Homo sapiens: one gene and its partner. The protein of the gene in region 1 interacts with the protein of each later gene in a pairwise test. Each region holds a gene or a part of one and is shown on either strand. Other genes may lie near its edges. The genes, in order: GRB14 and GIGYF2.

The links.
Region 2: the proteins of GRB14 (region 1) and GIGYF2 interact in a two-hybrid assay, tested with the Homo sapiens proteins (one study listed by BioGRID).

What each region holds. Positions count from the first base shown.
Region 1 is NC_000002.12:164,495,622-164,499,545, forward strand, and holds part of GRB14 (growth factor receptor-bound protein 14), read right to left. Parts: intron 1,870-3,924; coding exon 1,753-1,869; intron 1,663-1,752; coding exon 1,590-1,662; intron 1,475-1,589; coding exon 1,387-1,474; intron 1-1,386. UniProt on the Homo sapiens protein: Adapter protein which modulates coupling of cell surface receptor kinases with specific signaling pathways. Binds to, and suppresses signals from, the activated insulin receptor (INSR). Potent inhibitor of insulin-stimulated MAPK3 phosphorylation.
Region 2 is NC_000002.12:232,700,271-232,704,194, forward strand, and holds part of GIGYF2 (GRB10-interacting GYF protein 2), read left to right. Parts: intron 1-314; exon of another isoform or gene 315-384; intron 385-3,153; 5' UTR 3,154-3,219; intron 3,220-3,924. UniProt on the Homo sapiens protein: Key component of the 4EHP-GYF2 complex, a multiprotein complex that acts as a repressor of translation initiation. In the 4EHP-GYF2 complex, acts as a factor that bridges EIF4E2 to ZFP36/TTP, linking translation repression with mRNA decay.

The DNA of each region.
Region 1 (3,924 bases):
ATGAATCTCACTGTGCCTGGGCAAAGAGGCAGCCAAATTTAAAGCATCACAGATGTCTGACGAGTTTATCCATTTCATTTGTGCTGTGTGAGATTCCGACATTACATCACTGGGAAATGGGACAAAAGGGCGTTTCACTGGTAAATCAAGCTGTAATTCTTTTCCCATTCCCAAGTAGATCACCACTACCACCTAGTGGATCACTTGGCACCATCACATCTCTCCAAAAGAATACCAAAAATACTAAAAATAAGATAGTATCTTTTTTTATACGATCATTTCATTCACTTTATAAATACTGGGCTCAGAAATAAAGAAAATTACAATCTTTCAAAACATTTTAATAATTCTTTGTGACTCATTTATTTTCTTGGTTTCATCAGATTGTAATTCTACTGATTGTTCAAATTTATTTCCAAAAAGACTGCATTCCATGCAAAGAAACGTATTAAAATATCTTATTTACAGTCTGGGGAAATGCTGACTTCCTATTAATAATCTTCCATGTGAAGAAGCATTGTTATCCAAATTTCAGTATTAAATCACCTTGAAATCTTGTCATGATAATGACATGATTAGCCAACTTTTGAAGATAAAAGATCCCATCACCACTTGTTTAAATTGATAATGATTTCATTACTCATCTAAACCACAATACAACCTCCCTCATTTGTACTGCATTTGGAAAGGGAATTCAGCCAGTATTATAGAAAGTATCTGAAACACTGAGTAATTTGAGAAAAATAAAATTCTTCACATTATAAATCTTTCATAATACATTTTATATTTCTCTTTTGTATTCCATGGTACCCCACTAAAAGACAACATGAGAAACAGTTGAAAGGTACTCTTTTCACGGATCTATATTACTTTAAGATGTTAAAATTTAGAGAAAGGACAATAGGGATGTAAACACACAAAAAAATAAGTGTTCAAAACACTTAAGAAACAGCTTTTTACTTAATACATGTTGCATCATACCTAAAAAAATACATTTGACATAATGTCATAATATAAACCATACTTCGAAATCATATGTTCAAATCAAAATATTGACACTTAAAAAGAAGTTCATTTTCCCCCATCAATTGATATCTGAGATGCTAGAATCAGGACATAATGGGTAATATTAGTGATCACTGGTTAAGAACAAGATACTCTATTCCGTTATTTGTCCATTTATATACAAATACCAGACACACACTATGTACCAGGTATAATATAGATACTGTTAGAATACAGTGATGACCTCATTTATAGAACAATGTCACTTCTGTTTTATGATAAGCCCAAATCAAGAACTCTTTGTGGCTATGGAATAAATAATTTCTGCTTATAGGAGAAATCCAATTCACAAGTACTCAAAATTAAAAATACCAAACTTACCCATCCACAAGTCCTTGCTGAATAATCAATCGCTGAGCCTCATCTCTAGAAATTTTGTGGTGAAACCATGGCTGGGACCGGTGGATAGCTAAAGAAATAGGATGGATGAATGCAAAGCTTTGTTTGAGATGACTGCAATTTCATTACATGTCCTTTCCATGTCTATCCGTCTACTCAGTGGCAATGACTATGAACAGACATACCCATGTTTGTGGCAGAGCTCTGTGAAGAGGCAGTGGGGCTACCGTGAGTGCCCAGGCGTAAACATCCTTTTTTCTGAGCAAGGAAGGAGAAAACAAATCTCAAGTTTTTAGGTGAAACAAACTGAAATCATAAATATTTTGAAGCATGTGAAGCTACTTGTACCCTCCAAGCGAGTCCTTCTTCAACCGCAACTGAAAGGGCTTCAGTGGGATTTTCTATAACTCTGCTTTTCTGGCCTGAGAAGTCCATTGCTACCAGGGAATTCTCTGATATACTTCTCTGGAAAAAAGAAACACATTTGAGTTATGAAAATTTCTTTGAAAGTTATCTTTCAAATAAATTGAAAGTGTTTTTCAATTTCAGTGTTTTTCTCTCAGTGTTTTTCTGGCAGTACATTTCCATTCTAGAAGGTGGTGCCTGAAGGGGCTAGCAGAATATTTAAAGTGAAAATACATATTCAAGATATAAAGGTGCTAAAAATATTTTTGTTAAAAAAGCTAAATAGTAATTTGTTAAGGTAATTGAAGAGTTGAATAAACAGATTAAAAGCTTTTAAAGTATGTCTTTCTTCTAAAACAAACTTATCTTTTCACGTTCTCTAGTAAAATGGGAAAACTTCCATTTAGAAAGGAATAGCTCTTCCTCTGGTTAAAAAGATACATTGTTTCTGAATTGATGTCTCCATTAAGCTTTGAGATCCGTCAGTCATCAATTAAATGTCAAATCCATCTACTTATGAAGCAACTAGTTTTTAAGATTCAAGATACCCAAAAGTTATAACTTAGATTGACATATATCTCTTGAGAAATAATACTCATTATTTTTAATGAGTTTTATAATGGAGCAAACTAGAATATGTATTTTAAAAGTTTATCACATCAACTTTCATCTTACTTAGAAAATAAAATTTAGTGAAAGAATAATCCTGATAATTCCATAACCTTAAAATTTCCATGATTTAACATATGAATACATTTTCATCTTGTGAGAATACACTTGGCCACATGAGGGCTGCAAAAATAAGCCTGAATAAGAACTGATAGAAGGCAACTTTAAAGAAACTTAGTTTAAACAAATGATAAAGTCATTGTTTTTGCTAACTACTTCTTGTATTTATATTCTTTGAGTTGAAAGTAAAATATGCAAAACCCGATCTTCTTTTTCTTTTTTGTTTGTTTGGGGCTCTACTTTACAACCATCTTTTAACAAATATGCCACCCCACAACAAGTCATGAATCCTAAGAAAGACCATTGTCAAAATCTCTAGTCAAGAATCCCACTCAGTTCATAAGTTCATACAACATCAAGAAGGAATTAAAATTCTCCAAAAGAAAAATTTTAAAACACCCATGGAAAATAACAGTTATTTTCTACTAATTAATAGAAGAGCAAAACCCAAAGTGGTGTTATAATAGTAAACTACTAGCCAGCCTGCATCTGGGGCCCCCTGGCTTAAAAGCATTTTATCTCTCTTTATGTAGATTCAGCTATACCTGGCTTGGTTGCATAGACTATAGTCAAATGTAGGCTTCAAACAAAACCTTATCCACAGATAACTATAGGACTCCTTTATCACTGCTTCAACATATCCCACTTTATTAGCATTTGTAATTTTCTCTTCAAACTATGCTGTAGTGGCCTACAATCTTATTATGGTTCATCTATATTTCTAAAGATCTGGCATGCAATCTTTCATTTGTTACAGGAGCCTTTATAACTGACAGCTGCTCTTTCCACACAGATGCTGTCTCTGTAATCTCTATTTGCTGTCACACCTTAGTTTGCCCTTCTCACCCCGTGATCTTCTGTGCAGGTCTGTAGACCAGTCAGATATACTTGTGCTTTGCTGACATTAATGAAAAGCATCCACCTGCCCAAACCACAGAGTAAGCTTCCTCAATCATAATAGCTTTATCCTTATAATATCTCTCCGTTTACATGCCAAGGTAGGTTCTGTAATCTCAACTCCCTGGCAACATAAAAATACCATTATATTAAGAAAAAAATAATCAGCTGTCCTATTTTTCTCCCTCTAGTATAGCAGGCCAGGAAATAAAACAAGATCCTGTGTTCCCTATTTACTTGACATACATAAGAAGACGACACTACAAATAAGGAACGTTTTCATTTGCTACATTAACTAGATTAACGGAAAACACAGGACTATAGCAAATGTCTTCTACTGAATGGCAGGTGGTAGATAGAAAATTAATAGTTTACCATTGGTGGACAAAAAAATGGAAGTAAAGCAGAGTCTGACAAACTCAAAAGGTCATTTTCAGATCAATTTCTTTCACATAGAAAAGCAATGTTGATAACATTCAGAATTGGTTA
Region 2 (3,924 bases), about 68 Mb from region 1:
TTTTGAAATGACATTTCCAAATTATGTCTTTGATGTCATATCAGCTCATTTGTTTTCATGACTCTGCATTTTAATACTCCATATTGTCTCTTCTCTTTTTGTTGACCTTCACATTGGAAGATGACACTGTTGATAGTGATTGCTATCTGGGAGAACCTTTTTGGGTAAAAAGATTACTACTGTCGCTTTTATGATTGCCCTTCTGTAGGATCTTTGACTTGTGCCATTTTCAAATTTTGACTTTGTTTGCAGTTCTCCATTAGCTCCTGCTGATTAAATTTCCCATACTTTCTGTTTTATTCTATTTCTTATAGATTATAGTGGGACCAGTCTCATTAGGTTGAATCTACAGCCTATGTTGGTGTTAACCCAGGTCTCTTAGAGGCAAGTTAAATGTCCATTTTCCTTCAGTTTAAATTACCATGGCATATTGTTTGGTCATTGTTGTAACAGTCTGAACTCAAGCTTTTTTTCACTGCTTGATTCCCACTAGGGTTTTGTGGTGATAAAGTCCTATGGTTTTTGCATGGGAGAGTATTTAAGAATAAAAGGAAAAATATATAAAATGAAAAAGAAATAGAAGTTTAAAATAAGATAAAAAAGTCCTAGAGTTTCCATTCATTTTTAATACTTTGAAAAATTACATCTCTTTAAAACTAGAGATTTTTATTTCATGTATAAACTTGCTTATAGTTAGCATTGCAGTGTTTCTTGACCAAATATTGTTTTTACATTTTATTCATGCTCTCAGATGAATGAGAAATATACTAAATTAATTATGTAGGAATGTAAAGTGATACCTTTATTGAATTGCCTATAGTTTTGTGTGAGGTTGAAAGCAGAAAGAGGTTTGAAAAACAAAGAATGTTCTCTTAATTGACCAAACTTCATTTTATAAAGGTATTTCAAAGTATTACATACTTCCCTACTTTAAGTAAATAAGGAACACAATTTTATATTTTCTTGTTAACTATGGGGTTTCATTAAGCTTAATTATTATTATTATTTGAGATGGAATCTCACTGTGTTGCTCAGGCTACAGTGCAGCGGCCTGATCTTGGCTCACTACAGCCTGTGATAGAGCAAGACCCTGTCTCCTGGGGGTTTGGGGTTGCAGTGAGCCGTGATTGCACCGCTGCGCTCCAGCCTAGGTGATAGAGCAAGACTTTCTCCAAAAAAGACAGGGTCTTGCTCTGTCACCTAGGCTGGAGGGCAGCGGTGCAATCACCACTGACTGTAACCTCAATCTCCCAGGCTCAAGCCATCCTCCCACCTCAGCCTCCTAAGTAACTGGGATTATAGGTCCATGCCACCACATCTGGCCAATATTTTTTGTAGAGATGGGGTCTCACTATGTTGCCTAGGCTGGTCTTAAACCTCTGGTCTCAAGTGATACTCCCGCTTCAGCTTCCCAAAGTGTTGAGATTATAGGCATGAGCCACTGTGCCCCACCAAGAATGCAATTTGAGAAAGTCACATCCACTTCTGATTTAATTTTGCAAAAAAAGTAGCCATGTTATAATGTCCAAAGGTCATCCAACTTTACCCACTGAACTGTGTAATTTTTTAAGGGCAGGAGGAAAGGGAAGAAGAAATGGATAATAAACTCTTCTTTGGCTGGGTGCAGTAGTTTACACCTATAATCCCGGCACTTTGGGAGGCTGAGGTAGGAGGATCACTTGAGCCATGAGACCAGCCGGGGCAACAGAGAGAGACCCCCATCTCTAAAAAAGATTTTTAAAAAATTAGCTGAGTATGGTGGTGCACGCCTGTAGTCACAGCTACTCAGGAGGCTGAGCCCAGGAGGTCAAGGCTACAGTGAGCTCTGATTGTACCACTACACTCCAGCTGAGGGAACAAAGCAAGATCCCATTTTGAAAATAACTGGCCGGGTGCAGTGGCTCATGCCTGTAATCCCAGCACTCTGGGAGGCTGAGGTGGGTGGATCACTTGAAGTCAGGAATTTGAGACCAGCCTGGCCAACATGGCAAAACCCTGTGTCTACTAAAAATACAAAAATTAGCTGGGCATGGTGGTGCACACTTGTAATCCTAGCTTCTCGGGAGGCTGAGGCAGGAGACTTGCTTGAACCTGGGAGGCGGAGGTTGCCTTGAGCCCAGATCGTGCCACTGCACTCCAGCCTGGGCAACAGAACGAGACTCTGTCTCCAAAAAAAGAAAAAAAACTCTATCTGTCTCTATCTAGTTGCTTTCCTGTAGTTAATGAAATTGTCAACTTTAATTGTTAATTATTGTTCTTTGACTTGTTAGTAGCAGTAAAGCATCATTTGATTTTAGCCAAGAAACTATTTGAAGATACTATACTTCAATTCACTCTTGTCACTTGGAATATCACCAACTTATGGATTTTTAAGATATTGCCCCAACAGAGCATTAAAGGCAGGTTGTGATTTTGCACACTTGGAGCTTTGCTCCCTGGACATTTTGGCAATGATCATATTTCTGAGGGCTCAGTGATTATTTGCATAGGATGCATATTGCTGTGATGCGGCTTTTGTTTTTCTGTTAGATATATATTTTTTGAGATAAGGTCTCACTCTGTCACCCAGGCTGGAGTGCAGTGGTACAGTTGCAGCTCACTGCAGCTTTGACCTCCCTGGGCTCAGGTGATCCTCCTACCTCAGCTTCCCGAGTAGCTGGGACTACAGGCATGTGCCACCATGCCTGGCTAATTTTTGTAGAGGTGGGGTTTTGCCATGTTGCCCAGGCTGGTCTTGAATTCGTGGGCTCAATCGATCACCTTCCTTGGCCTTCCAAAGTGTTAGGATTACAGGCATGACCCACTGTGCCTGGCAGTAGGTTTTAAAAGTTAATACCAAGTCCCTATAATGGGGTTTTGAATGAAAACCCCAAATAATGACTTCCCTGAAACCCCATGGTGGTCTTCATTTGACAGCTTCATAAGAATCACTTAGGACTTTTGTTAAAAAATATAGTTTTCAGTCCCACTGTAGAACTACTGAGACTTTCTAGATGTTAGGGAACCTAGTTTATAAATACACCAGGTGATCTACTCTTTTAACCAGGTTTGGAAGCCATTTTCTGCAAAGTATATTTATGATGAAAGATTGTACTTTTAAAGTTTCCTAAGAGGTTGCTGGGTGATTTATATTAATATTTTTATTATTTACAGCGTTAAAAGGATCTGAACAAAGTCTGCTCAAATCTCCTGCTGTGAACCAGCAGAATTTTTGAACAGGTAAGTGTGGAAGGGAAGCACAAAGCCTGAGGGCTTTTGCAAATAGGTAATTTCTGCTTTTAGGTTTTAGTTATTTTTGCCCTATTATTTCTCCTGAGGTTTTGGGTAGTGAGAAGAAACTTCTTCCCTGGTGCCTGTCAGATCCTTTATGAACAGTAAGAGTAACATACCCTTTCTGCATTGACCCTGGTGTGAATTTGTGTCTTAAACTGTCATAATAATTTTTTGTTGGCAAGAAACAAGGAGGAATGCTTTGGAGGCAGGAGTACTGTAAAGAACCAAAGAGCAGTTGACTTCATGAGGGACATGAACCAGAAACTGGGAAGCTTTCAGGAGCCATAGTACTTGTAGATAGCACTTTTTTACCAGCTGGCCAGTGTCCTCTCTTGTCTCTTTTTGTCCTGCTTTAATTGTATTTGTGCAGTCTGGCCTTTTCTGCTTTAACAAACACAAACTCATGGTAGCAAATGGCCACTTAATTCTTGGAGCCACATATGAACTTAGGCTCTAGTGCCAGTAGCCAATTGATGCTAGCACAGTGTTCACATTTCATATTCTTGGGAGGGGGAAATTTGGCTGGTTGAACTTGGTTCGGTTCTTTGTCATTGATCACATTAGTTATGGACATAGGGTTGGAGTCTAGAAGTGCAAGCACAGTTAGCTGAAAGGTCCCACTCCTAATGGTGGGGGCAGGTCTCAGAGAAG